Linked DNA regions of Homo sapiens: all the other regions are linked to region 1. The links come from fine-mapping of genetic effects on gene expression. A gene starts in region 1. Each other region holds a variant in brackets. All regions are shown on one strand. Distances are between the middles of the regions.

The links. PIP is the estimated chance that this variant, and not a neighbour inherited with it, causes the effect. A credible set is the group of variants that fine-mapping cannot tell apart.
Region 2: its variant is the best candidate, but not a certain one, in a credible set for the expression of HMGN4 in whole blood (TOPMed, PIP 0.53).
Region 3: its variant is the best candidate, but not a certain one, in a credible set for the expression of HMGN4 in whole blood (TOPMed, PIP 0.68).

Annotation. Positions count from the first base shown.
Region 1 is chr6:26,534,827-26,543,009 of GRCh38, reverse strand. HMGN4 (high mobility group nucleosomal binding domain 4) reads right to left here and starts at 4,644. Exons shown (of 2, transcript NM_006353.3): 1 at 4,509-4,644. TRR-ACG1-2 (tRNA-Arg (anticodon ACG) 1-2) reads right to left here and starts at 5,512; the gene lies at 5,440-5,512. It overlaps TRV-CAC1-6 (tRNA-Val (anticodon CAC) 1-6), which reads right to left and starts at 4,956; the gene lies at 4,884-4,956. RefSeq lists enhancers at 4,024-4,433, 5,694-6,358, 6,448-6,947 and silencers at 4,924-4,973, 5,367-5,660.
Region 2 is chr6:26,478,616-26,486,798 of GRCh38, reverse strand. LOC285819 (a long non-coding RNA gene) reads left to right here and starts at 4,290. Exons shown (of 4, transcript NR_038992.1): 1 at 4,290-4,327; 2 at 7,679-8,183. It overlaps LOC107986583 (a long non-coding RNA gene), which reads left to right. Exons shown (of 4, transcript XR_001744057.3): 4 at 110-150. The variant C/T (reference allele first, on the strand shown) is at 3,979.
Region 3 is chr6:26,557,333-26,565,515 of GRCh38, reverse strand. No RefSeq gene overlaps it. Among named protein-coding and RNA genes, the nearest start is that of TRK-CTT2-4, 4.9 kb to the right of the region's middle. The variant C/T (reference allele first, on the strand shown) is at 4,042.

The sequences.
Region 1 (8,183 bases):
ACACATTTCCCTAAGAATAGATACTCCATACCATTCTCCTTCCATCTCACTCCAAAATTGTTTCTCAGCCCATTTCCTGGTGTGAGAATGCTCACACAGTCTCTTTTCCTGGGTTCAGTCTTCTTCGAGTTAGATCCATTGAAGTCCATCCGAAGTAGGGGGGCCATGATCTCCACATGTCAAAGGCCAAAATACAGCAGGTGACAAAATAAAATCAGGAAAAATAGGCCACTGCCTGGATGCTGTATCTGAGTATATAAATACGGATTTAATTCTTGAAACTCACCTTTAGGAAGCTGATTAGGAGACCAGGTCACTGACTCTCTAGAGACCTTACAAATGTGGGAGACAGATACACACATAATGAAAAGGGACCAGAGAGATGGGTAAAAGCTCTTACCATTTCCATAAAGGACAAGGAGGTTGGAAAAGGAAGGAGCTCTCACCACACAGTGGTTTTAACTCAGAAGAAATTATTTGAGGTGGCGCAGAAGAGATTTTTAGGTAAATGAAACTCTTTTGTATGCTACTGTAATGGCATATATTATAAAATGGTAGATGTTATGCACTTGACAAAACCCACAGAACTTCATACAGTGAGTGAACCCTGATGTAAACTATATATTTTAGTTAATAATAAGCTATCAATATTAGTTCATCATTTGTAACAAATGTACCACACCAGTGTAAGTTGTTAATAACTTAGGAGAAACTGAGGTGGGGGAAAGGAAGTATGTGGGAACTCTGTATCTTCTGCTCAATTTTCTGTAAACCAAAAATTGCTCTGAAAAAAGGAAGTCTATTAATGTAAAAAAAAAATACGCATTTTAAGAGTTCAAAAAAATAATGTTAATGATAAAATATAAAAGTCATTACAAATACTCCTTCATGCATGTGGAAGAAAAGAAAAATTATTAACTGGCAGATAAATCTTACTAGTAATTGTACAACTTTTGGAAACATAGAGAAATGACTTTCAATGGTATCATCAGGGCAAGAAATTATCAAGACAGATACTGAAGTTATTTTCCCAAGACATGGCAACAATTTTAAAAGTTTTAGAAATATAACAGTTCCCCTTTGTTAAAATAACTCTTCCAATAACATTATATTACAAACAACAGAGCAAGTTAGTGAAAGTTTTGAATCACTCGTCTTCATTGCACAGAACTGGACTGAAATTCTCATGAAAGCTCTCAATTTAACTCCTCATTTAACCAGATTGCTGTAGGGGAGAAGAAACATCTGCTTCATCCTTCTTCCAATCCTTTTGTTAGCATGAAGACTTGCATTTTTATCATTAGAAGAAGATCATGATGTTTAAATTAACTGGCAAAAATAGCTTTAAAAAAAAAACTAATAGTGAAATAAAAAGCAAAATAGGGTATTATGGGTGGGCCCTAATTCAATATTACTGGTGTACTTATAGGAAGAGGAGATTAGGATACAGACAACATAGAGGAACACATCTAAGGATGTAGTGGGAGGTGGCCATCTGCAAGCCAAGGAGAGGCCTCAGAAGAAACCAAACCTGCCGACATCTTGATCTTGGACTTCTATCCTCCAGAAGTCAAAGAAAATTAATTTTTGTTGTTTAAGTCACTCAGCCTGTGGTACCTTGTTTCGGCAGCCCTAGCGGACTAACATAGGAGGGAACAGTGTAAGAATTTAGTGACTCAGGCAGGGCGTGGTGGCTCACGCCTGTAATCCCAGAACTTTGGGAGGCCAAGGTGGTCAGAAGTTCGAGACCAGCCTGGCCAACATGGTGAAACCCTATCTCTACTAAAAATACAAAATTAGCCATGGGTGGTGGTGCGTGCCTGTAATCCCAGCTACTAAGGATGCTGAGGCAGGAGAATTGCTTGAACCCGGGAGGCAGAGGTTGCAGTGAGCCGAGATTGCGCCACTGCACTCCAGCCTGGGCAATAGAGTGAGATTCTGTTTCAAAAAAAAAGGAATGTAATGACTAGGGAAACATCTTGGATTAGATTAATTTGGGGGTCTCACCCAGCTCTCAAAATATATTTTTCCATGTTTTTTCTCTTTCATAGCAAGCAAATCCATGGACCAAAATGCCACCTCATTCAATACTCATTTTCACCTCATCCCTAGCAAACACAAGGCACATTTTAGCAGCATCTTTTTGATCACTCGATGGATACGGAACTGGGTTTCTGGGAGGTAGTTCTAACTTGGGTTTTAGCCTCAATCCCACCCCGAAATCAGAAGGTTCCCCTCTCCCTCCCTGCCTCTTACTTAAGGAGAGATCGTGTTTGGGGGTTGGAGGGAAGATCTGGAAGAAAGTTAAGAACACCAAGCTTAGGAAGGAGAGAATAAAGGATATAATTAAAATACAATAAAAAATGCACAGGCAAATGCTGGGCGTGGTGGCTCACGCCTGTAATCCCAGCACTTTGGGAGGTGGAGGCAGGTGGATCACTTGAGGTCAGGAGTTCAAGACCAGCCTGGCCAACATGGTGAAACCCATTTCTACTAAAAATACAAAAATTAGCTGGGTGTGGTGGCATATGCCTATAGTCCCAACTACTTGGGAAGCTGAGGCAGGAGAATCACTTGAGCCTGGGAGGCGGAGGTTGCAGTGAGCCAAGATTGTGCCACTGCACTCCAGCCTGGGTGACAGAGCAAGACCCGGTCTCAAAAAAAAAAGAAAAAAAAAAAAAGATTCACAGGCAAGATGCAGTGTGCTACAGAAGCAAGAGGTCACATGGTGTCAGTCACTCTCCAGGGCGTTTGTTCTTCATCTTCCAAAGTATTAGAGACGCAGCATGAGTTTCCACGGAGGTTAAGTGAGAGAGACTGGGAGATGCAGGGGTAGAAAGGAAAGATGAGAAAACGCAGGGTGTCTAAAAGGGTAGGTTTGCTGCTGCAGCTTGCCAGAATGCATCTGCTTTAAAGAGAAGGAGTGAGCCATAAGCTCCCAAACAGTCACCCATCTGTAAAGGTTGGTTAGGGGCACACTCACCTTCCAGGCTAAAGTATTCCTGCTAACTGGGATCGGAGAAAGATGAAGAGGATAAATCCTTGTCATCTCCTAGGACCCTGGAACCTTTGCCCCCTTTCTGGGCACCATAATAACTTGCTTATATTTCTGAGTAGTACAGAGGGGATTTTAAATGAAAATGTATTAGACAGGTTGCTGTTGAGCACATGCCCAAGTTTATTGTCTTGCTAACCAAGATATTATCTTGCTAGCCAAGGTGTTGTCTTGTTAAGGGAACCAGCAAGATGACAAAAGAATGGACCTTTCAAGTCAACGTCTACCCAAGCAGCCTGTTTAAGAAAATGATAAAAAGAAAACAGCTCATTAACATTGTCCTTTTCTTTCTTTTCTTTTCTTTTTTTTTTTTTTTTTTTAATTTTGCGGACCCACCAAAGAATGCAGCCCTTCTTTTCTCATGGTCATAAAAATATCACATTCGGTTGGGCGCGGTGGCTCATGCCTGTAATCTCAGCACTTTGGGAGGCCGAGGCGGGCGGATCACTTGAGGTCAGGAGTTTGAGACCAGCCTGGCCAATATGGTGAAACTCCGTCTCCAACTAAAAATACAAAAATTATCCGGGTGTAGTGTTACACACCTGTAGTCCCAGCTGCTCGGGAGCCTGAGGCACAAGAATCGAGGTGGAGGTTGCAGTGAGCGAGATCGCACCATTGCACCCCAGCCTGGACAACAGAGTGAGACTCCGTCTCAAAAACAAACAAACAAAAACAAACACATCACATTCTTATTAGTCATTTGAGGGAACCTGGAGCAATATGATCTGAGAGGCTAGGCTTGGCTAATCCCTAGAAAAAGTAGTAATACATCTAAGAAAGAAATCCCTCTTAGGGAACACCCGAGGCTGCCAGGTGACACAACAAAACTTTCTCATAAAAGCGTTTGATTAATCCGATTAACTTGTAAGCAAGCCATGTGGCAGAGGTAAGAGGCCAAACACCAAGGCACCAGTCCTGATTCTAAACAAGTGCTGGTCCATTTCTTAACTTTGGGATCCATTTTTTCTTTGTGATGGAATAGCAAAAGGTCAAAGTGGAGGAGGACTCAGCCCTTGGGTGTCTCCTCAACGAGGGTTTCTCGAAGGTAAATTGGGGAGGAAGGGAGAGCCCACGGCAGGTCAGTCCAACCTGCCAGTCACCACCTCTTTAAGGCCACAGCCCTGCGGGAGCAATCCTTTCAAATCCCCTTCCTTCCTTCTTTTAGAACGCCCCTAGAACGCCGATTAGGACTTCTCATCCCGGTCGGGCCTGCGGCTCTCTGTGACCCCACCTCTGGATTCAGCTTTTCCCAGGGATTCACACTCGGAGCTCAGGAGAGATGCTGCGATTACTCTGGAGACGGGAAGACAGGCGGGGCTGACGGGGCCCAAGGCCCCTAATCATGACCGGGGCCAGCTGGCAGGAGGGTCCTAAGTATACGGAGGGCGGCGGGACCCCCCCCACCACGCCCCTCATTTTCCGGGGTAGCGCACAAAGTCTGTGAGGCACTTACCCGAGTCTCGTGGCCGTCCGAGGGGCGCGGGAATCCCAGCTGAGGCCCGTGACGCGCCGGAGCCCTAGGCGTGGGCAGGGCCAGCACCAGCCCTAAGACAGAGAAGACGAGCGGAGCCCGGCTCCGCCAGGAACAGGAAGGCGAGGGAAGGTGAGGATGCGCTTCCGGGGCTGCAGGCGGGGAGCCGCCCCGAGTCCAAGCCGGAGAGAGCTGGTTCTCCCCCTGGCGATACGTGTGTGAGCCTCTGAGGCCCGCCCTAAGCACTGCTGCCCCGATCTAGCAAGACAAGAAGACAGGAAATTTATGACAGCCTGAAAAAGTCTTTAAAAGATACACACTGGAAGAATTTCGTAGTAAGATGAGGAAAAAAAAACGTGTTTCCGCCCGGTTTCGAACCGGGGACCTTTCGCGTGTGAGGCGAACGTGATAACCACTACACTACGGAAACCCACTAAGGGCTTATTTTTCAGAGTAAATAGTTCTTCCTGCCTAGTTCCGTGTTTCTTCGTTCCAAGTGCGTGTTTTGCTGATGTGCGCGTGCGTCTCTGTACCGACCTCTCAAACCAGAAAAACCAATGAAAAGCTCAGACCCAGCCCCTCCAGTGTTCAAACTGAAGCCATAGAATTTATTCTACAAATGACTGAATAGGGAAGAACACAATAGAGACTTTAATTTAATCTCTGAACGGTCCTTCGTTCTTCGGCCAAAATGGCCAGGCAAGGCTGGGCACAACTTGGGTAGGGCGAGCGTTTCTCTGGCGTAGTTGGCGTTACCACGTGGTCAGTGGCAGAATGCTCCGCAAAGAAATGATAACCCCATATGTTGTCGGGAGCTGCCCCTCTTGCTTCTGAGTCTTCCAGGCAAATTTATCTTGCAGGAATTTCCTTACTCCTGCGGAGTCAGAAAGTTGTAAAACGACCCTGCTTACACCGAGCCAGCCAGGAGTCGAACCTGGAATCTTCTGATCCGTAGTCAGACGCGTTATCCATTGCGCCACTGGCCCTGCGCGTACCTTAGGGGCGAGGTATTTCATAAGAAACTAGGTTGTACCCGTAATATCTGGGTGAACGCCTGTAAGCCGCGTTTGCCCGCTGGTCCAGGCTCGCAGCGCATGGACTCTCTGGTAGCTACTTCTGCACACGCCCCGTGGCCTTCATTCCTTTCTCGGTCTGTCTCTGCCGGCTGAAAAATGGCGGTGAAAAGCAAGCCCTGCATCCTCTCTGCCCCAATATCACCGCTCCATTAATGCGTTCGTTCATTCAACCAGTATTAGTGTTCAAGGCACTGCAGATAACGGTGAAGAAAACATGAGAGACCCTTGCCCTCAAGATTACATGGCAGTGGCGGAAGCGGATAATAAAGCATTAAATAAACAAAATAATAGTGATAAGCGATTGGAGAAAAATAATAATAAAACAGGGAAAGAGGATAGGAAAGGCCAGCAGTGAAAGTGATGAATGAGGGATAAATGCTGATATCGGGGAAATGAGTGATCTGGAACAGGGAAAAATCGCTAGGGAAAAGGCCTGGAGGTGGAAGCAGGCTTGGGAGTTATGTTGAGGAGGCCGGTGCTCAGTGGAGAGGAATAGGAGATCCTGGGAGACCACCTCCAGCTTTATAGGCCCTTGTAAGGACTCTGGCCAGCTTTACAGGCTCTTGTAAGGACTCTGGCTGGTATTCTGTAGGAAACTGGAAGCCGTTGTACGGTGACGTGGTCTGAGTTTTCATTTGTCTCTCTGTGGGTCTTTTTTTTTTTTTCTTCAAATATTTTACTAAGCGAAACTGTGCTAGGCCTCCTCACTGCATGCTGCTTCTACTGCAGGGCCTTGATCTCAGAATTTGACAGCTTTATAAGGAGCATCATCAACCCGGACACTCATATGAATGTTCACTTTTTCACTTTGAAAGCAAACAAACGTCTCATATGTGTGTGTTTTAGTTTGTCCATATTTCTGAGAATAAATCATCCCCATGCCTGGTGAGCATTTTAAATAAGATGAGGTCTACTAAACAGAAGTAAAACTGCCTGATATTGAGAATATACACTTTGAGATTAGAAAATATTTGTTTTCAGTTCATAAGGTTTCAACAGCCGTTACAAAAAATATTCTGCTCTTTCTGCATAAATATTAAGGTAGACCTAGGTTATGGATTACTCCCTAGGCAATAGCATAGGGATCTTCTCGTTAGGTTTTGTACTATGGACCCCAAGGGCAGCTTGGTGATTCTGGACTCTATCTCAGAATAATACTTTTAAATACACGAAAGAAAAGATAAATATGTAAGATTTCAAAAGAAAACTAATTATGTTAAAATAGGTTACCAAAACTTTTTTTTTTTTTTTTTTGGAGACAGAATTTTGCTCTTATTGCCCAGGCTGGAGTGCAATGGCGCGATCTCGGCTCACCGCAACCTCTGCCTCCCGGGTTCAAGCGATTCTCCTGCCTCAGCCTCTCAAGTAGCTGGGATTACAGGCATGCTCCACCACGCCCGGCTAATTTTGTATTTTTAGTAGAGACGGGGTTTCTCCATGCTGGTCAGGCTAGAGCATCCCTGGAAGTCACAGGTCCCACCTAGCACCTTAAAAATGAGCTTTAACCCAGCTGGCTGTAGGCTCTGTCCACATTCAGTCTCCTTAGTGTTTGTCTATAAAAATTTATCTGTGTTTTGCAGGCTTTGAAGACCTCCCTTGGGTGCCTCAAATTTCTTAGCCATATTCACTACAATAAATGCTTTCAGCTGGGCGTGGTGGCTCACGCCTGTAATCCCAGCGCTTTGGGAGGCCGAGGTGGGCGGATCACGAGGTAAGGAAATCGAGACCAGCCTGCCCAACATGGTAAAACCCCGTCTCTACTAAAAATACAAAAAATTAGCCGGACGTGGGTCCCAGCTACTCGGGAAGCTGAGGCAGGAGAATTACTTGAACCCGGGAGGCGGAGGTTGCAGTGAGCCGAGATCGCGCCCATTGCACTCCAGCCCAGGCAATAAGAGCAAAACTCTGTCTCAAAAAAAAAAAAAAAGAAATGCTTTTGCTTTGCTCTTGGAAATCTTTCTACATCTTTTCTGACAGTTCCAGTTTCAACTTCCAGTCTTTTCTTCAGCATATATCGGAGAAAGAGTCCAGATATATAAATCTAGATATATATCTATATATATCTAGGGTGAGGACTGGCAAGTCTGAAACCTGTAGGGTTGTAGGGCAGGCTGGAAACTCTCAGGCAGAAGCTGATGCTGAAGTCTTGAAACAGAATTTCTTCTTCCTTAGGGAGGCCTTTGTTTTGCTCTCAAAGCCTTTTAACTGATTGGATAAGGCCCATCTACATAAGGGAGAATCTTTTTTTAAGGTTAACTGATTGTTAACCACATTTACAAGATAACTTCACAGAAACATGTAGGTTAGTGTTTAATTGAATAACTGGGTAGCCTAAGTTGACACATACAACTATGACAGTGGTGGACTCTTCTCTGTGTTTCAGTGCAGTTTTTTTTAGTTTCACTCCCAGGCACATGGAAAACTACACCATCTGCCACTCTCACATTGTTTTACATGACTGTCGGCAGTCTGTGACACAGCCACCTGCATCCTCTCCAATTTCAGACGTGTGGAGCGGAGCCAATGTGAGGGTTCCATGGTTCCTAATCACAGTCGGAACTGAATAGAAGATATGGTTCAC
Region 2 (8,183 bases), 56 kb after region 1:
GTTGTCATGAGAACTCTAAAAGAGTGAATAGAAACATTCTATAACTTAAACACACATGCACACACAAATTCATTTTAAAAAGTCCTCAGGTTTAACTCTCTTTGTACAGATGAAGAAACAGAGACACCATGAAGATAAGACTGATATGGTTTGGATCTGTGTCCCCACTCAAATCTCATCTTTAATTTTAATCCCCATGTGTTGAAGAAGGGACGTGACGGGAGGTGATTGGATCATGGGGGCAGTTTCCACCATGCTGTTCTCGTGATAGTGAATGAGTTCTTACGAGATCTGATGGTTTAAAAGTGTGACACTTTCCCTCTCACCCCTCCCTCTCTCTCTCCTGCTGCCTTGTGAAGAAGGTGCTTGCTTTTCCTTCACCTTTTGCCACAACTGTAAGTTTCCCGAGGCCTCACAGCCATGCAGAACTGTGAGTCAATTAAATCTCTTTTATTTATAAATTACCCAGTCTCAAATAGTTCTTTATAGCAATGTGAAAATGGTCTAATAAAATGACTTTTTAAAAATACAACCAGCGAGACCACGGCTGAATTTCTCTCTTCCTGAAACTTAGTGTTGTACCCTTTCTTTAAACAAAACTGTTCAAAGAGTATCAGCAATACCAGAAATAAATGAAAAAAGCATACAACTCCTCTAGAGCTGCAGCCATAAAAGACCGGTTTTTATACTTTCCTATTAAATATTTCCAGATCTGACTACTGCATTAATGATGGTTTTGACCAACATTGATAAGTTTATTTTTTTAAAACATTTTTTTTCCAGGTCATTATTACAAAAATGCATTATTGAATTGGTTTGAATCCAAAACACTACCCTTGAAGCCATCACTTTAGATGCCCGGCTCACTTTTAGTCCCCTCCAGCTACTGAGGATGAACCTAATGATAGCCCGGGTTCACTACTTACTTGCTTGCCAGTAAGCTCAAACTCAGGTCATGGGTAACCATGCCTACAGCCTTAGTTATTCTAGGATCACCTGAACCAAGTCAGCTTATCATGAGTTTGTTCTCCTGGAAACTTAGAGTACAATATTCCTTCATCCCAGTTCTAGGCCTGGAGATTTCCAGCGTGGACTGGAAATCTTTGAGGTTGGGTGGAAATGGGCTGTCAACTCCTGGGCCTCATAGCTGTCATGGTGGGATTTAATCAGGCTCACAGCTGTTTCCCTCTCCCAGCTTTCTATCCACTTCTGTCTCTGACCTTCATTTGTGGTTTCCTCTTCTCCTTAGGAGGCCCCGTAGTTCTCTCTCTGTCTCTCTCTCTCTCCCCCCACCCCCCCCCCATATATATAGAGAGAGGACTGTAAGTCCAAGCGTACAGTGTCAATCAAGCATTAGGTTGAATGTGCCACCCTGATGTTAAAGCAAGTGGTTTACAACATGTCATTTTCTCACACTTTTCTCCTTGGTTGACAACCCTGTGGCAGCAATAGTTTCCCTGAGACGGGACTTCGCCCTATGGTTATAAGCTAATGAGCTACTAAGGCAACAGTTTAATCGGGAAGAGAGGTGGGTTTGGGGCCTAAAATGGGTGTCAATGGGGCAACTGGAAGAGGTCCTTTTATGTGACCAGAGGGAAGAGCTCATTTACCACCAGGCATGGGGTAGAGTGTGCTGTGCTGTGGTAGTCAAGATGGCCAGGCCCTCTCTACATGACTCTGAGACCAGGAATTTGGTGGTGGTGGCAGTGGGTCCCCATCCTGTGAAGGATGAGGCCACACAGAGCCTCAAGATCAGCTAGAGTGAGAACTTAGGGCCTTCTCAGGTCTTTCCAGAGCACACACACAGCCCTGGGCATGTGCACAACCCTATGTATATGTGTGGACTTCTAGAATCCAAGAAATACGTCAGAGATTTTCAAAGCCCTCTGTATATATTTCACTCCTCAGCCTTTCCTATTAAGCTTTTTAGTTATTGTTTGCTCCAATGATTACCCACCATCTCAGACAGCTGTGATGTTAAACAATTGTCACTGGTTATTGTCAACAAATGCTCCCAGAGAAAACCCTGTTCACACTTGGTGAGCTTTGCGTCAGATCAAATAAGGACAAAGCTTGCAAGTGACGTCTTCTGGGTGCTGAGTTTCAGGACACACCATCCAAAAATATGAGTGCAGGAGACCAGAATATGCCATCTCAAAATATGCCACCCTGGCATACTGATCTTTTTGAGCTAAAAGAAATTAAAGACCAGCCAACATAGAAAAATCTCCTTGCCTTCCCCTCAACTGTCTGAAATGAATTATAAAACACCCCTTTTGTAAAGAAAAATTTACATCTATAAAAGAAATTTTTACTAGTAGAGGTATTTATACCAGGAAGAGAACTGCTTTGAGACAAGTTTTACCACTTGGGGAACTTTTATCTGTAACAAGGTAACCTTTACTCACCATACATTTTCTTCTCTCACCATCCCATAATTTGTCTCCATCGTTTCCCAGAAGCCCTGACTTCCTCCTTTCTGTAGCTCAGGATGCTATATTAACTTCAATCATCCGGCCCTTCTTTGAGTCTCATATTTTGAGATTTGAGGGACTCCTGTACATATGCATGTAATTAAAATGGTTTTTCTCCTATTAATCTGTTTTAGATAAATTTAATTAATAGCCTAGCCAAATAACCTAGAGGGGTAAAGAGAAGCAGATTTTTCCCTCCCCTACACAAGGAACAACCAGGCATGTCTAGTAATGACAATTCTCTAGGAATGGGGTTTTGAAGGAGCCCCAACCCCTTTCTATTCCCTCCAGTGACTGTCAGGCGCTGTTTTTCACTGTGATTGTGGGGTGGTTTCTAGGCTACTGCAGAGCTGTGGTGGGGTGGTGGTAGTGTAATAGGACATGTTAAAATGCCTATAAAACGTACTGTTCTTACTGAGGTTCAGCCATTTTTCTTGAATAAAATTCACTCTGATTGCTGCAAGCCTTAGGTTAATTTACAGAGTTCTGAGAAAGTTGATTCTGGCAATTTTTTTTTTTTTTGAGATGGAGTTTCACTCTTGTTGCCCAGGCTAGAGTGCAAGGGCACGATCTTGGCTCACTGCAACTTCTGCCTCCTGGGTTCAAGAGATTCTCCTGCCTCAGCCTCCTGAGTGGCTGGGATTACAGGCATGCACCACAATGCCTGGCTAATTTTGTATTTTTAGTAGAGATGGGGTTTCTCCATGTTGGTCAGGCTGGTCTCGAAATCCCAACCTCAGTTGATTCGCCCGCCTTGGCCTCCCAGAGTGCAGGGGATTACAGGCGTGACCCACTGCACCTGGCCTTTTCTGCCAATCTTTGCCAGTGTTTACTGCTTTTATGGAGGGAGGGATTTTCAGAAGTCCTCACTTAACCATTCTCACTGACTTCTCTACGTGTGTGTGTGCGTGCATGCACACGTGTTTAATGTCTAAAAATATAATTTGAAAATAACTTGTGCTTTAAAACCTCAGCCTTTTCCTCCCAGGGTAGATTTGGTTATCTTAGAGCAGCAATTCTCAGATGTTTTGGTCTCATGACCTTCTTATACTCTTGAAAATAATTGAGAATCCCAGAGAGTTTTTATTTATGTGAGTTATATCTATCAACACTTAGCATTTAAAAATTAAAACTGGGCTGGGTGTGGTGGTGCACATCTGTAACTCCAGCACGTTGGGAGGCCAAGGTGGGTGGATCGCTTGAGCTCAGGAGTTCGAGACAAGCCTGGGCAACATAGTGAGACCTTGTCTCTACAAAAAAATACAAAAATTAGCTATGTGTGGTGGCATGCACCTGTAATTTCAGCTACGTGGGAGGCTGAGGCAGGAACATCACTTGAGCCTGGGAGGTGAAGGTTGCAGTGAGTCTAGATGGCACCACTACTCTCCAGCCTAGGCGAATGATTGAGACCCTGTCTCAAATAAATAAATAAAACAGGTTTTTTTTTTTTTTTTAAATGAGAGTCTCGCTCTGTTGCCCTGGCTGGAGTGTAGTGGTACAATCT[C/T]GGCTCACTGCAACCTCCGCCTCCCAAATTCAAGTGATTCTCCTGCCTCAGTTTCCTAGTAGCTGGGATTACAGGCATGCACCACCATGTCTGGCTAATTTTTTTATTTTTCATAGAGACAAGGTTTCACCATGTTGGCCAGGTCTGACTCCTGGGCTCAAGTGATCGGCTTGCCTCGGCCTCCCTGAGTGCTGGGATTACAGGTGTGAGCCACCATGCCCGGCCCTTAAAACACAGCATTTTAAACACAATAATACACATTGTGACATACATTCCAATAGGTGTCAGAGGGATGATGTCATCATGTCTTCAACATCTGGAAAACTCCAATGCACACATGTGAGAGTATGTGAGTAAAAGAGGCAAATAACTTAAAAAAAATTTATTTATTTATTTTTAAAAATAGAGATGGGGGTCTCACTATGTTGTCCAGGCTGGTCTTGAATTCCTGGGCTCAAGTGATCCTCTCGCTTCTTTTTTTTTTGAAACAGAGTTCTCACTCTGTCACCCAAGCTGGAGTGTAGAGGCGTGATCATGGCTCACTGCATCCTCGACTTCCGAGGCTCAGGTGATCCTCCCACATCAGCCTCCTGAGTAGCTGGGACTACAGGAACTCACCACCATGCCCAGATAATTTTATGTATTTTTTGTAGAGATCAGGGTTTCACCATGTTGCCCAGGCAGGTCTCAAACTTCTGGCATCAAGTGATCTGCCTGCCTTGGTCTCCCAAAGCGTTGGGATTACAGGCATGAGCCACCATGCCCAGCCACAAATAACATTTTAGTATCATTATAAACATTGTCTTGGCCAGGTGCGGTGGCTCACACCTGTAATCTCAGCACTTTGGGAGGCAGAGATGGGTGGATCACCTGAGGTCAGGAGTTTGAGACCAGCTTGACCAATATGGTGAAACTCCATCTCTACTAAAAATATAAAAATTAGGCAGGAGTGGTGGCTACTCGGGAAGCTGAGACAGGAGAATAGCTTGAACCCAGGAGGCAGAGGTTGCAGTGAGCTGAGATCGTACCACTGCACTCCAGCCTGGGTGACAGAGTGAGACTCCATCTCAAAAAAAAAAAAAAAAAAAAGTCTTCACCTCATGGATCCCCTGAAAGAATCTTAGGGTCAGACCACACTTTTAAGAATCCCTGTCTTTGGTGGTTCCAGAGAAATAGACTATAGGACATCCACTGGAGAGCCCCGCAGCATCAATACCTTGAGGAAGTTAAGGAAAGAGGATAGACAGAAGGAAAAGTTGAAATATAATGCAGTCTCACAATGAACTCTGGAACTGGGGTGACCCTTCAGAGTTGTGTACCTTGTGCAAGGGGTCCAGGACCTTTACACCTATGTTTTCCAGTCATTGGATGTGGTCCACTCACTGAGAGGTGGAATAACCTTGGGCAACAGGGCTCTCTTTGGCTCTTTAACAATTCATGGTATGGAGTCAGCTGAGGGCCCTGAGCCACCAACACTCTCTGCAGCTGGTTGATTGTGTGTCTCAGTCCAACACGGAGTGACCAGGGCAGGGCACCACAGCATCCACCTCAGTGGGGAAATGAGAATGGAGTTGGACAGTTTGTGTGGAAGGGGGCAGGCAGAGAGAAGAAAAGGTTTTGGTGCTGGAAATAGTATAAAATGAAGGAGGAAGGAATATTTCTCTTTGTTTCTCAGGTACAGCTTTCAGTTCTATCCAAAGTTGGCCCCTGAGTTCATGTGAGAGAAATCACGTTATTTCTCTCCCTCTGCATAAGAAATCCTTGAACCAATGGGGACATGCTCATGGATTTCCCTAGAGAACTTTCTGACAACTCTGGCTCCAGATTAGTTTAATCTGTTCTCATTCCCATTTGTAGTTCAGTCATTTTACTGCATGAATAGCTGGGAGACTGGTTTACTTGCAGCTCAGTCACTTACTATGTGTTTTTAACTAAATACTTTCACTTTTCTTGGCCTCAACTTCCTCATCTCTAAAAAAAAACAAAAACAAAAACAAAAAAACGATGCTTGAAATTCTGGAACCAAGCATTTATGGGATTTTAGAGAAAATAAAGTATGTGTTCTGCAATAACCCAACATATTATTTTCCTGGAAAAAAAAAACAACAAACACCTTGAATTCTGCAAAATCATGCAACAAAAACACCAGGGCTTACAAAAAAATAGAGTTGGGCTTAGACAACTAAAAACCCATGCAGGTTTGTTTCCAAAACACTAATAAAGCCAACCAATCAGCAGCACCCATTCCCTAATGCCCACCAAATTGTCCATAAAAACCCTTAAAAAGAGAAAAAAAGAACACTAATAAAAACATCAATGATAGTAATACTTTTAGCACAGTTACCCAAACTCCTAATAACTAAACGTGTTTAATAGTAAATGTAGGGCTTTACCTGAAGGTAGGTGAATGTAGCTTAATAGAAAGAAGTATACTGGCTGGGTGTGGTGGCTCACACCTGTAATCCCAGCAGTTTGGGAGGCCGAGGCAGGCGGATCACCTGAGGTCGGGAGTTTGAGACCAGCCTGACTAACATGGAGAAACCCCGTCTCTACTAAAAATACAAAATTAGCCAAGCATGGTGGCACATGCCTGCAATCCCAGCTACTCGGGAGGCTGAGGCAGGAAAATCGCTTGAATCTGGGAGGCAGAGATTGCGATGAGTTGAGAACACACCATTGCACTCTAGCCTGGGCAACAAGAGCAAAACTCCATCTCAAAAAGAAGTATACCAAAAAGATGAGTTTGCTGAATTTGGGAACAAAGCAATGGTGGGCTAATAAATCGTATGCAGGAAGAAATGCCTTGTTTAGTATTGTTTGGCAATTTCTGTGGTGTAAATACTCCTACTATGAGTGATTTTTGCTCACTACTTTCCTGAAAATTTAACAATCACCTCTCCTAAACTGGTGCAAGCTGGCTGGCTCTAGGACACCAACAGGAGTAAGGGCTAACATTGTGACAACAGGCTAAAGGTGGAGAAGTTGTCATCTTTGTACAAAATGTGATCTACAAAGCTATGGTCTTGTGTTTCTTTTAAGCCAAAAGGAAAACCATGGGGCAAAAAGGCATTACATATGCTAGTGCATTTCTCTGTGGTTTTCTGAGCTTAGCTACTGGTGTATTTTGTACTCAAATAACTCTTCCTCAATGGCATAACACATTAATTTGGGAGAAAATTGAGTATGAGTAAAAGGAACACCGACATTATAATGCTGTCATAATTCCAGGATTAACAAAAAGCACATGAGCTAATTCCTATTACAGAAACACAATCTGTAGGTAGAAGAGGTTTTGTATATGTGAAGGGTGGGCTGGGGATGGGCTGTGTGAAAGATGGTGACTAATTTGACAGCATGTCTGTCGGAGTGGTGTAGCCCAGGGATGTTAGGCTAAATCGGCCTGGGGAGCAGGAAGCTGAGCTTTCATAGAGATGATGCATTGCAAAAAGATTCCTGAAAATGCCTCTAAAATGGAGGGTTGCTAAATCCACAGGGGAAGAGATCAGAGAACTTCTTGGACACAATGAAGTGAAGTTACATTGAGATCTAAGCAAGGGTTGGACAGGCAGACGATGGAGGGATCAGGGTTGGATATCAGTTACACAGATCACTGTGGAGTTCTGCTCAGAATCTCTTCAACACTGTCACTCTTGAGCTCCTCCTCATCTCTGCATCTCCCGACCCCTTGTCTTTCTGTTAGCACGATATGGAGACTCAAAAGAAGAAGTGCTGGATTTTGCTGCTCTGTTGGACACAGAACCATAAACTTGAGAATGCAAGTTCTTGAAATTCCAAGGCAACTTCCTAATTTCACTGTCAGCTGGGTTTCATGTCATCTTCTGCTAACACAACTGTTTCTGTGTTTCCTCTGTGTACCTTTCTTGGACTTCAGCTTGGGGTGTTTTCTTTCCCAGTAATGATTTTTTTTTCCTTTTTTTCTTTTTACATGCATAACACAGAGAATACCCCTCCACATCAACCCTGTTCTCAACATCAAGATATTTCCTCTCACACTCCTAAGTCACTCAGTCTCAATCCTTTATATGCCCTCAGACTTATTCCCAAACTCCCAGAACCTGTTTTCAGAGATAAGGCAGCAATAAAAGCACATTAAGAAGTCCCCCATATCTGCCAATCTAAATGCATCTCCATTTTCTCAAGCCTAATCCCTGTTCATCAGAAGTAACTGAGGGTCTGACAGTAAT
Region 3 (8,183 bases), 23 kb before region 1:
TATACATAGACCCTTTTGAACACAATTTAAAAGTAAATAATGAATTTTGGTAGTAGAAGTTACAGCAACATGGACAGGCTATTTACTCGTATGTATGATGTAATGGAAAGAACACAGAGAGGTATTGGAGCCACTTAGTCCACCTTTGAATCTATGTCTCACTAGTAGTATGACTTCCCTAACTTCCTCATGCCTTATACAAAATGGAGATGATGATAATGAAGGTAATACAGATCCTAAGGGGATAGTTGTGAATATCAAATTAAATAGAATTTGTAACGCACAGTTCTCAGAGTGTGCTGTCCACTGCCTTACTCCCACAGGCTCAAACAGGGGAACCCACAGAGAGTACTTTGAAAGCCTTTTCGCTGGGCCTTATCTTTAGTGAAATTAGAGTATAAAAAATTCAAGAATAACACCATAGGAAGCATACGAGTAATAATGTAATCATTAAAACAAGTCCCAAACAGTACCACAAAAAAAGCTAAGTACACAAGAATTTAGACTATGTAAGAGATCAGATTTGGTTGAGATTAATTAAGGAAAGCCTCCTAGATGGAGTTATAGTCCTTACAGAGGATTTTTTTTTTCGAGACAGGGTCACACTCTGTTGTTGATGCTGGGGTGCAGTGGTCCAGGCTGGGGTGCAGCGGTGGGATCAAAGCTCACTAAAGTCTTGAACTCCTAGGCTCAAGGGATCATCTCCCCTCAGCCACCTGAGCAGCTGGGATTAAGGCACATATCATCATGCCCAGCTAATGGGCTGGTTTATTTTGTTTTTGTATTTTTGTAGAGACTCAGTATGTTGAGTCATAGGTCTCACTATGTTGCCCATGCTTAGTTAGGAATTTTGAAGAAGCGATTGATCAGAATCACTTTTTTTTTTCCCCTGAGACGGAGTCTTGCTCAGTCACCCAGACTGGAGTGGTGCAGTGGCCCGATCTTGGCTCACTGCAACCTCCGCCTCCCAGGTTCAAGCAATTCTTCTGCCTCAGCCTCCCTAGTAGCTGGGATTACAAGCGCCCGCCACCGCGCCCAGCTAATTTTTGTATTTTTAGTAGAGACAGGGTTTCACCATGTTGGCCAGGCTGGTCTCAAACTCCTGACCTCGTGATCAACCCGCCTCAGCCTCCCAAAGTGCTGGGATTACAGGCGTGAGCCACCACTGGGGAATATGGCAAAACCCCGTCTCTACAAAAAATACAAAAGTTAGCTGGGCGTGGTGGCACGTGCCTACAGCTCCAGCTACTCAGGAGGCTGAGATGGGAGGATCACTAGAGCCTGGTGTTAATGGTGGTAATGGTGGAGGGTGTCCAGGTTCTTGGCGTCTTGAACAAAGAACTGGACAAAACGCACAAACAGAGCAAGGAAAGAATGAAGGGTTTTATTGAAAACGAAAGTATACTCCACAGTGTGGGAGTGGGGCTGAGCACAGGAGCTCAAAGGCCCCGTTACAGAGTTTTTGTGAGTTTAAATATCATCTACTTGGGGTACGCCCTATGTAAATGAAGAGGATGAATTAAAGTTACAAAGTAATTTACTCCGTGTATGCCCTATGGAGAGGATATTTCCTGTTATAGCTGAAGTGTGAGTTGGCCTTATGTTCCTTGACTCCAGGCCCTATTTTTCTGCCTCACTGGGAAGTCGAGGCTGCAGTGAGCTGAGATCGCGCCACTGTACTCCAGCCTGGGCAACAGAGGGAGACCCTGTGTCATAAATAAATAAATAGGAAGAAAGCTGAGTGAGATAGCCTGTTTTTTGATTATCCCCAATTCTCCCAGCTACATTACCTTTCATACTGTCCTCCAAAATAATGTAGTGACGTTTTCTTGGAAAGCTTATTACAACATGGCTGTTCCAGACCTATCCCCACTCCTGGTCTTGCCTCACAGAGTAACCCTAATGAGATAGGGCAGGATATCCTTCCACTCCCTGTCAAGATCTCGTCCTGTACTTGTCTAATAGGTGTCAGTGAGAGGTATCCGTTTTCTGACCTCTTTTATATTACTGTTTTTCCTTTCTGAAGTCTCCTTAGAGTCTATTGTTTCTGCATTTAACATTGGTATACTTTCACGTGATAATGCATGCCCCTAGAAGGGTGCCTACTTTTCACAGGGCAGCAGGAGAGAGACTGAGAACCAAGTGAAGGAAGAAGCCCCTTATAAAAACCGTTAGATCTGGTGAGAACTTACCATGAAGAGAATAGCGTGGGGGCAACCGCCCCCATGATTTCATTACCTCCTACTGGGTCCCTCCCATGACACACGGAGATTTTGGGAACTACAATTCAAAATGAGATTTAGGTGGGGAAACAGCCACACCATATCACACCATATCACCAGCTTTATAAACGGTTAAGAGGGACCTGAGGGTAAGGCTTATCAGATGAAGGGCTAGTATTCTCACTGCCTGATTATTACAGCAATCACAATATTGTAAACACACACAAAAATGGGCATCGTACTCCCAGAATGTTGGTTTTTTCCCTACCTCAAGATGATTTTATAAAAGTCTTCATAATCCAGTTCTTGGTTCATAAACACAGTAATTCAGAAGCCACTTTAGTCTTCCTGGTCTCTAAAATGTATATCGCTTTTCTTAGATTAATTATAAATTAATTAATTGATTGTCATGCCCACATCTTAGGTGATTCTGATGTCACTTGAAGCATTTTAGAATTACCAGTGTGAATTTTAAAAGTACAAGATTGTTAATAAACTATTATTTATCTGTAAGTAGTCTTGTGAACTTTTATGGCATTAGATGTGTCTTTAACCAGTTCTTCCAGTCTTTTCTGTTATTTCCTGGTTGTTTGCCTGTCACAATTAATAATTTACATTTGAAAAGAACCATATTTTCTAAATACATTTTTGCTAAATGTTAGTTCCTTGAGTATCAATAGTTCCTTGAGATGTTAATAGATGTTATTTGGTTAAAAAAAAAAAAGAGCATTGACTCCATTCTCTTTACCAGGCCTACTTTAAGCAATGAGCTGTAAATTTCAGAACATTAGAAGATAGATCAGTCGAGATTTTTCTTCATTTTATTTTCCTTCTATGAATAATTAAATATTAGCTGTGTTTTCAGCTCTCAGCTGGTAAGAACTTTGCCTTTTTTAGATGTTGTTGTCCTCTTTCAGTTAACACATATTCCATTACCCTGCCAAACCTCACCAATATTAAGTAATTATTTATTAGCATATAGTGCATACAAGATGCTGCCACTGTACATGCTTTAATACCTAGTTTCTCAAATTTCGCAACAATCCCAATCCAATTTACTGAGCCATTTTCTTTTCTTTCTTTGTTTTTTCTTTTTCTTTTTTTTTCTTGAGATGGTCTGGCTCTGTTCCCAGATTGGAGTGAAAGAGGAGACCACTCCTCATATTGTCTTATATTTAATTTCTTGTTTGCTGAAAAGGTAGAAGTTAAAAGAATAGGCAGAAGTGAAATTCATAGTCAGACAGCCCGGCGCCGCGCCTCGGGCCTGGTAGTTAAAATTCAACCCCTGAACTCACCACTTTTGGTATCTATAGATTCTAGACATTGCATGAAGAAGCATTGTGAAACTCCCTGTTCTGTTCTGTTTCGTTCTGATTACTGATGCAGGCAGCCCCCAGTCGTGTACCCCTCGCTTGCTCAATCGATCATAACCCCCACTTCATGCAGCCCCTTTAGAGTTGTGAGCCCTTAAAAAGGATAGGAATTACTTATTCGGAGAGCTCGGTTTCTAGGACGCGAGTCTGCCGATGCTCCCAGCTGAATAAAGCTCTTTCCTTCCCCAATCCAGTGTCTGAGGGATTTTGTCCATGACTCCTCCTGCTACAGGAGTGCTGTGGCATGAACATGGCTCACTGCAAGCTCTGCCTCCTTGGGCTTAAACCATCCTCCTACTCAGCCTCCCGAGTAGCTGGGAGTACAGGCACCTGCCACCACGCCTGGCTAATTACTGTATTTTTTGTAGAGACTGGGTTTCAACATGTTGGCCAGGCTGGTCTTGGCTTCCCAAAGTGCTATGATTACAGGAATGAGCCACAGCGCC[C/T]AGCCTGAGCCATTTTCAAACCCAGTATGTTCAGCCCCTTAATGTGAATCATTAGCTAGGAACTTGCCTTGCTGTATAATCTCATCCATACACAAATTTTACATGACTTTTGACATCTGAAGAAGCTCTTTGGATTAAAACAGAAATAATAAATGAGGACATGTTCTTAGGCTTGTCCCTAAAATAAACTCTTGACTAAACTTTCTTCCTTTACAAAAGAATACAAGACAATGTTTTGGGATTCTCAGAAATGACAAAAGGGACACAATTATCACAGTTTTTAGTTGTGTCATGTTTTTTATGTTGCTCTTGAAGGAGGTTATTTTCGCCCTATAGGGTTTTTACCATGAAAAGTTTTAAATTTACAAAAAGGAGTTGAAATAATATTGCAGTGAACAATATATACACTCCACAATCAACAATTGCTAGTATTTGCCATACTCGCTTTAAATCAATCTTTCTTTCTTGTGTATGGACACACACAGCATGTACATTTCTTTTGCTGAGCTGTTTGAAAATAAGTGACAGATGTGATGACTTTACCATTTAAACACTTCAGCAAGCACTCCTACATGTAAGAGCATTCTACACATCACAAAATTATTATTACTCCTAGGAAAAGTATCAGTAATTTCATTGTGTCTAATAACTGGCTTATGACCCAATTTCTCTAGTTATCCCAAGAATATATTTATGTATTTATTTTTTTGAACTAGAATTCAGTATAGAGTCACTCATTACATGTGACTGTAATGTCTTTAGTCTCTTAATATTTTTATAACATTGACTTTTTAAAGACCATTTGATTCATAGTTTTGTTGCATTTGATCCTCTATGTTCTATAAATTAGAAGGTATGTCTAGAAACTTGATTCAATTCAACTTAAAATATTTTTGGCAAAAGGATTTCGTAGATGTTGCTGGCATTTCATATTGTAATACATTAGACGGCCCAAATATTTTCAATTTTCATTTTAGATTGCTTTTAAGTCGATATTTAAAATCATGTATACATACAAGGCTAATTTTTTTTTTTTTGAGACGGAGTCTCACTCTGTCACCCAGGCTGGAGTGCAGTGGTGCGATTTCGGCTCCCTGCAACCTCTGCCTCCTGGGTTCAAGCGATTCTTGTGCCTCAGCCTCCCAAGTAGCTAGGATTAAAGGTGCGAGCCACCGAACCCAGTTAATTTTTGTATTTTTGGTACAGATGAGGTTTTGCTATGTTGGTCTTGAACTCCTGACCTCAGGTGATACACCTGCCTTAGCCTCTCAAAGTGCTGGGATTACAGGCATGAGCCATCATGCCCGGCAGGCTAATTTTTTTTTTTTTTTTGACAGAGTTTCGCTCTTGTTGTTCAGGCTAAAGTGCAGTGGCACGATCTCGGCTAACTGCAACTTCTGCCTCCTGGGTTCAAATGATTCTCCTGCCTTAGTTTCCCAAGTAACTGGGACTACAGGCACCCACCACCTCACCCTGCTAATTTTTGTATTTTTAGTAGAGATGGGGTTTCACTATGTTGGCCAGGCTAGTCTCGAACTCCTGACCTCAGGTGATCCACCCGCTTCGGCCTCCTAAAGTGCTGGGATTACAGGCATGAGCCACCACGCCTGGCCCCACTAACATTTTTTGATGCTATTTCTAGCACTCAAACCCTAGAATTATTTACAGAAGCATAAAGCAATGCACAATGTTTTATCCTTTTTTATTTAATTTTTTTTTTTTTTTTTTTTTTTTGAGACGGAGTCTCGCTCTGTCGCCCAGGCGGGACTGCAGTGGCGCGATCTCGGCTCACTGCAAGCTCCGCCTCCCGGGTTCACGCCATTCTCCTGCCTCAGCCCCCGAGTAGCTGGGACTACAGGCGCCCGCCACCACGCCTGGCTAATTTTTTTGTATTTTTAGTAGAGACGGGGTTTCACCGTGTTAGCCAGATGGTCTCGATCTCCTGACCTCGTGATCCGCACGCCTAGGCCTCCCAAAGTGCTGGGATTACAAGCGTGAGCCACTGCGCCCGGCCTATTTAATTTTTTTGAGACAGGGTCTTGCTCTGTCACCCAGGCTGGAGTGTAGTGGCTCCGTCACAGCTCACTGCAGCCTCAACCTCCTGAGCTCAAGCGATCCTCCCACCTCAGCCTCCCAAGTAGCTGGGACTACAGGTGTGCACCACCACACCCAGCTAATTTTTGTATTTATTGAAAAAGAATTTTTTTTTTTAAATACAGAGACAGGGTCTCGTTATGTTGCCCAGGCTGGTCTTGAACTCCCAGCCTCAAGCAGTCCTCCTGCCTTGACCTCCTAAAGTGCTAGAATTACAGGCATGAGCCATTGCACCTGGCTGCATCTTCATTTCCTATTGCCAGACAATTAAAATATAGCTGTGGATGTAATTTTTGTTAAATCAGTCACATTCACCCAGTAGGTATATGGCAATTTTCTTTTTTATTTATTTTTTCTTGCAGTGCTCTATACATTCAGAGAACCTTCTCTAGTAACAAAGCATAGAAACGATCACTGAAAGTAGTCTTGATGGCAACTTTCTGGAAGGCAGGGACTATATCATCTTCATATTTTTATTAAATGTCCAGCAATGAAAAGGTGCTTAATAAAAATGTGTTTGTCAATTGTTTTGAAAGACACTGTATCTTTTATAAAGTAGACTTAGAGAACAGTCAAGTCTCAGTGTACTCAAGAAAAGTTACTGTGGTCAAATTCATCCATTTTGTGTTAACTCATAATTCTCAGTTTCATGGTGTATATACCAACAATACACCCAAATCCTAGGGAGTCCATCTAGTTAGTTAGTTAGTTTATTTATTTATTTAGAGACAGGGTCTTGCTCTGTCACCCAGGCTGGAGTGTAGTGGTGCAATCATGGCTCACTGTAACCTCCACCACCTCGGTTCAAGCGATCCTCCCTCCTCAGCCTCCCCAGTAGCTGGAACTTGACGTGAGCACCACCACATCCAACTAATTTTTGTATTTTTTGTAGAGATGGGGTTTTGCCATGTTGGCCAGGCTGGTCTCGAACTCCTGAGCTCAAGTGATCCACTCAGCTTGGCCTCCCAAAGTGCTGGGATTACAGGCGTGAACCACTGTGACTGGCCCCGTCCAGTTTAATACTCATGATTTCCTGTGCCCAACTGTAAGTGCCATTTATCTAAGTAGATAAAATATAGAATCATTTTAAAACTGGATATAACATATCACATGGAGCAAGTGATAAATTACTGATAATATTTAGGTTACTGAGTAAAGAAAAAAGGGCCTGTGGTGCCTTATGCCTGTAATCCCAGCATTTTGGGAGGACGAGGGGGGAGGATTCCTTGAGCCAGGGATTTGAGACCAGGCTGGGCAACATAGGGAGATCTACAAAAAAAAAGAAGAAGAAGAAGAAAGGAAGGGTTGGATGGCAGAGGACAGACAGTGGTAATTTGTCACTGTGTCTCCAGTGTGCTCAGAGGTGAGCATTCTTTCAATGCAATATCCATATTCTGGGGCTCCTTACAGATGATGTGGGCTGCAGACCTGATATATCAAGTCTTCACAGTGATATAACTCTTGTTGTCATTGAACCCCTTTTGCTCTGATTATATAGTAGAGAACATTTCATGTGAATTCAGTCTTTCCAAGTTTGAGGGCAATTTTTAAAAAATACACTGGGCCACTTAACACTTTATTCATTGGTATCGATGTATAAGGTTGGTGTTCTGACCTTAAAGTTATCCTTGACTATTCTTCTCGCTCCCATTCAAATCTACCAGGAAATCTTACTGATTCAGCCTTCCAGATAGACCCACTTCTCCTCTTCCCCTGTTAGCACTCTGATCTTTCTTATTACTTTTTGTTACCAGGAGCCTCTTAATTGGTTTTCTTGTTTCTATCATTGTGCCCTTAAGGTCTTTTCTCAACACAGCAGTTAGAATTATCTTCTTAAAAGGTAAGTTAGATTCTGTTACTCTTCTGCTCAGAATCTTCACAGACTTCCCATCTCTCAGTTAAATCTAAAGTCCTTACAAGCCCAGAAGGCTCCATATCTTTTTGACTTCCTCCCCGCCATTCTTCTCTCATACTGCTGCAGCCACTGGGAATGGCAGGAAAACATGTAACATCAAGTTTCTCAACCCAAAAAGCTAATACCTTACACC